2 separate regions of the Homo sapiens genome follow, and region 2 is linked to region 1. Evidence: fine-mapped expression QTL. Tissue or cell type: prefrontal cortex. Region 1 holds a variant in brackets; the other region holds the start of a gene. All regions are shown on one strand. Distances are from middle to middle.

Region 1 (2,685 bases):
GCCCTGTGAGTCAGCTTCATGCTCCAGCAGCTCAAGATACGACCAAGGAAGCTATGGGGATTACATCTATCCACGACAAAGTCCACAGGTGACTGTCCATTAAAAGAGAGTGAGAACAGGCCAGGTGCGGTGGCTCATGCCTGTAATCCTAGCACTTTGAGAGGCCAAGGCAGGCAGATCGCTTGAGGTCAGGAGTTCAAGACCAGACTGGCCAACATGGTGAAAGCTTGTCTTTACTGAAAATACAGAAATTACCCAAGCATGGTGGCAAGCGCCTGTAATGCCAGTTACTCAGGAGGCTAAGGCAGGAGAATCGCTTGAGCCCAGGAGGCAGAGAGTGCAATAAGCTGGGATCACGCCACTGCACTCCAGCCTGGGTGACAGAGCTAGACTCCATCTCAAAAAAAAAAAAAGAGAGTGAGAAGAGTTGTGTGTGTTTTTTCTGTTTCACTGACTTGAGTCATGTGTGCATGACTGACCACCAGACCAATGCCATGCACTCGCTCCTGAGCCCCTCCCTGGCAGAAGGGAAGAGCTGGTCATGACTTGGGGAGATGAACAGGGCCACCCCGGAGCTGTAGGGCTGCTGTGCAAAGAGGATGGAGCAAAACGGAATTCGGGGAGACCACCTGGAGCATCTGAAGTCACCCCAGTCAGAATCCCCTCTCACTCGGCAGGAACTGTGCTTTGGGAGAGCACACAAGCCCCTGGGGTAGAGGGTGGTTCCCACAAGATGGTGCGTCTCCCTCCAGTGCGCTTATCTGGGATCAGTTAGCCATAGAAAAGCCCGCTTGTACCATCAGTGGTCTGGCTAAGAAGAAAACGTATGTTGGTTCCACGTGCCCAGATTTCTAATCCACCTGCCTTCCCTTCCAGATGCACAAGCCGTTCTACCAGTCCCTCTTTGCCTTGGCCCTCACCCCACGCTGCCTGCAGCATCTTTGCCGCTGTGCTCTTCGCAGACTGTTTGGCAAAAGGTGCTTTGACCTCATCCCCCTGTTACCCTTGCCAAAGCCCCTGCAGAATTACCTACTTTTGGAGCCACA[G/A]GGTGTTTTGCACTGAAACGCAGAACGCTGCAACCAATACTGTTGTTCTCCTCGCTGACCTTCCATGGAGGCCGTGTGTTGGAGAGTGCCCTGATGCAGATGGAGGTGATGGGAGTTCCCTTCCCACTTGCTCTCCGTGGGACCGGGTGAAGCACAGACCTTGCCAAGCTTCAGGTTCACCTCGAAATGGAATTGGCAACAAAAGCCCTTTCTGCCTCTCAGGGTCGCTTGTGAAAATCCAGTGAAATCGTGACTATCACAGCACTTGGTCTGGGAAAGTACCTTTCAACAACAGTTAAGCCAAAAGGTACAGTGAGTCCTCACTTAAGGTCTTCGATAGGTTCTAGGGAACCAGCTTTAAGCTAAATGAGGTATAACAATGCCAGTTTTCCCAAGGTTAATTGATATAAACAAGAATGATGTTCCTACAGCATATTTCTGGTCACAAAAAGATCACCACACTTCTAAATAAAGACCAATACAATTCTAATAGTAAAGATTGAAATAAAGGCAAGCTACACATACCTTTAAAAGAGATTAATAACAAGTAAGATAATTATTTACCCAATTTTTGGTGAATCAGTATGTGATGGTGGTTGTCCTGCTGGTGGGTTAGATCAAGGAATAAATGTTTGCAAAACGAACCTTGTCAGGAGCACCTCCTACCACCACGAAGTTCAGAACAGTCACCAATGTGGCAGGCTTGCTAGGCCCTCTCATACCGCATCATTTATTGTCATGCATTTGGATGATTATTGTATGCCTTATGAATTTTTACTTTACAATAATTTGTATTCATTCATTCATTCATTCATTCATATTCTAATGTGCTTATTCTAGTTCAGGGTCGTGCGTGGCCAGAGTCCACCCCAGCAACTCAGTGTGCAGGGCAGGAACCAGGCCTGGACGGGGTGCTATTCCATCGCAGGGTGCTCACACACCCCCACACCCACCCACCCACACACAACACTGGGACAATTCAGACACGACAGCTCACCTCACTTGCTCAGCTTTGGGATGTGGGTGGGAACTGGAGCACCCAGAGAAAACCCATACAGACAGTGGCCTTGCCCAGGAATCAGTCTTGTTTCTTTTTTGTTTTTTTGTTTGTTTGTTTGTTTGTTTTGAGACTGGCGCAATCTTGGCTCACCGCAACCTCCGCCTCCCAGGTTCAAGCAATTCTCCTGCTTCAGCCTTCCTGGTAGCTGGGATAACAGGCATGTGCCAGCACGCCCGGCTAATTTTTTATTTTTAGTAGAGACGGGGTTTCTCCATGTTCGTCAGGCTGGTCTCAAACTCCCGATCTCAGGTGATCTGCCCGCCTCGGCCTCCCAAAGTGCTGGGATTACAGGCATGAGTCACCATGCCCTGCCGAATCAGTTTTGTTTCTTATCGGTGTTATAATAAAATGACATTAAACAAAACATTATTTAAGGACCTACTGTATATGTATTTTTCCAGTGTGTTAGCAGCCCTCATGCTGCCCCTGAGCCTTGGGACCGTCCCCTCACAGAGAGGCCTCTCACCCCGCTGGGGCCCGACCACCCGGGGAAACTCTGTACCCTAGATCACAACGGACCTGCATGTTGAGAAAGGACACTTGCAACCAAGGCACGTGCACCTGCCCAGGGCCTGTCGG
Region 2 (2,685 bases), 70 kb before region 1:
TGTCCCTCTTGATCAGGAAAGCACATAACTTCCCAGACTCACCCCAGCAGCCAGAACTGGGTTGCAAGGGAGACTGGACATTGAGTGCAGGCAAAGGAGACTGGGACTGACACTACTGACCTAAATCAACATGACTCATCCCCAGGGGCTGGGCACAGTGCCCCCACCAAGAAAGCCAGGCTGTGTTGGGCAGGTGGAAGGAGAATGGATGTTGGGCAGGAACTACAGTGCCTGGCACCTCAAGTGCAGATGGAACAGAAGCTGGAAAATCACACAAATGAGCTGAAAGGAGGAAGAGGGTGTATTAGTCAGTGTTCTCCAGAGGAACAGAACCAACAGTTATGTAGGGAGAGAGAGAGAATTTCTCTTCAAGAATTGGCTCATACTATTGTGCAGACTTGGTAAATCCATCATCAGCAGGGTGGGCTGATAGGCTGGAGACCCAGGGAAGACCTGAGGTTGAGACCAAAGGCTGTCTGCCGCCAGAATTCCTTCTTGCTCAGGGAAAGTCAGTCTTTTGTTCTATTCAGACGTTCAACTGATTGATGGAGGCCCACACACATTAGGGAGAGCCATCGGCTTCACTCCAAGTCTGCCGGTTCAAGAAATTCTAATCTGATCCCAAAAACACCTTCATAGAAACATCTAGACTAGTGTTGGGCCAAGTCTCTGGGCACTGGGGTCCTAGCCAAATTGAGACATAAAATTAAGCACAGGGGAGAAGAAAGAAAGTAAGGAATGGAAAAGATGGCGAGATAGAAGGCAAGGCGAAGGAGGCCCTGTAAGCTCCACGGCCCGCCCTGGGCCCTCAGAGACCACAGCACACTTGGCATCAGCAGAGAAGCTTCAGGCACAGCTGTGCTTATGCACAGGTTGGCACACAGAGACCCAAGCACACTGAAGACACAGGTCAAGGAGAGAAAGCCCCACCTTTGCCCCTAGGAGTGCACAGAAATCCCCCTGAGGGCTCCACACTTCCACAAGTCATGGAATTATAGGCTTTGAGCAAAGTTTACCAGCCTTGAGGCATAGGGAGGTCACAGGTAATATTTAGGTTACTTTTTTTTGTTTTTCTGTGATGCTTCCGTCTTCCTGAGATCAGCCAGTCCTTCTCTGCATTTGGAAACCAAAGATTCCATTCCATTCTATGCGTTTGAGGCATGTCCAATTTGCAGGTGACCAGACGCTCCTTTTAGAGGAAGTGAAGGAACACAAGGGGTAGAATATTAGAAAATGTTCCTTTCCACAGAATAGAGGTCCAAGCCCAGTGCCAGGAAGAGGTTTTCAAAGTTTCAGGAGAGAGCCTCACTTTTGATAAAAGAAGATATTATTCAACAATACCCATGAAAGCTGTCTTTGAAAATATTGTCTCTCCTTCTTGCACCACTCACAAACATGTCTGCTGCCCCCATCTCTAGAATAATCCTTTGCTGAGGCCTCTGGAAAGATTACTTCACACCTCCCTGCTGGCAGGTGGCCCTCCGCAGGGACTGTAAGAGGAGCCAGGGTGCTGCTATTTATAGCAGCCCCCACGCCACTCTCACGGACAGCTGCTGACTTTGGAGTCGCTTTAGAGGAAGAAAAGAAGGGCTGGTCACTGCAGAAACGACGTAACAATGTCCAACTCGGATTACCTTCCCGACTACCCACTCAACTCAGATTTAGTGAAGAGATTAAAGTCTGCCCTGGATGCCAAAGATGAGGAGAGAGTGAGGGATTTAATCTGCACTGAAATCACGCCTGTGGACGCTGTGATAGAACTGGCCAATGACGACTGGATGAAAGACCCCTCGGCTCAGCTGCCCACCGGCATGCTGCTAGGTAACCAGAACGAGCCTGCTGCATCTGGGATTTAATTACTAAGTTACACTGATGGGGTGGGCAGATCCTGGAGGTAGAGGGGCAAATGTTTGGAAAAAGTAAATGATATGTACTCGGATATCTGACTCTCATACATACATGCATATATGTGTACTGCATAGACCATGTACATGCGTGTGCGACATAAGCAACAAGTGCAACACAACACAAAAAAACTAATCCTACCACAGTGGCTGCTCTGTGGCTCCATTGTTTTCCAAGCCTGTCCATTTGCGTGTGTAAATTTCACCCACTGATAACCATATCATACACATAATTGTGTGTTCTGCTCCCTTGAGATCTACAAAATCTAAATCTAAAGCATTTTCCATGTTGCTACATAGTCTTCCCAATTTCAATCCCCTACTGAAATACTTAAACCAAATGCCTACAAAAAGATAGTATTTGGTTACCTTTTTGCTTCTATAAATAATGCTGTAACGAACATCTTTATTAGGATTCATACGGCTTTTTTCTTTTTTGGGATTATATCCTTACCATAAATTCCTAGGAGCCATATAACTGGAACAAGAACATAACATTTTTTCAAATTGTATTGTTTCTAAATTGGTTCCAAATTGTTTTCCGCAAGGGTTTCTGTTCCCTCTGACAGTGAGGTGATGTGTTTCACCACAACCTCACCAAGGAGCATCACTGGTAATGAATGTTTGTATTAAATTGCCATTTGATAAGCACACACTGGTAATTCTTCACTGCCTGTCGCCCATCCTTTCTTTGCAGGTCTGGACAAAGTCTTGTCCATAGGATTTTTTCTTTGTAGGCCTCATCAGGTGCAAGACCTGTCTATTTGGGTCTTGGGCAGGA

Alleles and levels. Alleles are on the strand shown, and positions count from the first base shown. SD is a standard deviation of normalised expression in the study named.
For the expression in prefrontal cortex of the gene that starts at base 1,556 in region 2, allele A in region 1 goes with a higher level than allele G (moderate effect, 0.49 SD a copy in BrainSeq).

Evidence for each region. PIP is the estimated chance that this variant, and not a neighbour inherited with it, causes the effect. A credible set is the group of variants that fine-mapping cannot tell apart.
Region 2: ASB18 starts here. The variant in region 1 is the best candidate, but not a certain one, in a credible set for the expression of ASB18 in prefrontal cortex (BrainSeq, PIP 0.63).

What each region holds. Positions count from the first base shown.
Region 1 is chr2:236,193,249-236,195,933 of GRCh38, reverse strand. It overlaps ASB18 (ankyrin repeat and SOCS box containing 18), which reads left to right. Exons shown (of 6, transcript NM_212556.4): 6 at 877-2,475. The coding sequence ends at 1,062. All of the region lies in intron 1 of GBX2-AS1 (GBX2 and ASB18 antisense RNA 1), which reads right to left. Among named protein-coding and RNA genes, the nearest start is that of GBX2, 26 kb to the right of the region's middle. The variant G/A (reference allele first, on the strand shown) is at 1,047.
Region 2 is chr2:236,263,277-236,265,961 of GRCh38, reverse strand. ASB18 (ankyrin repeat and SOCS box containing 18) reads left to right here and starts at 1,556. Exons shown (of 6, transcript NM_212556.4): 1 at 1,556-1,821. The coding sequence starts at 1,617.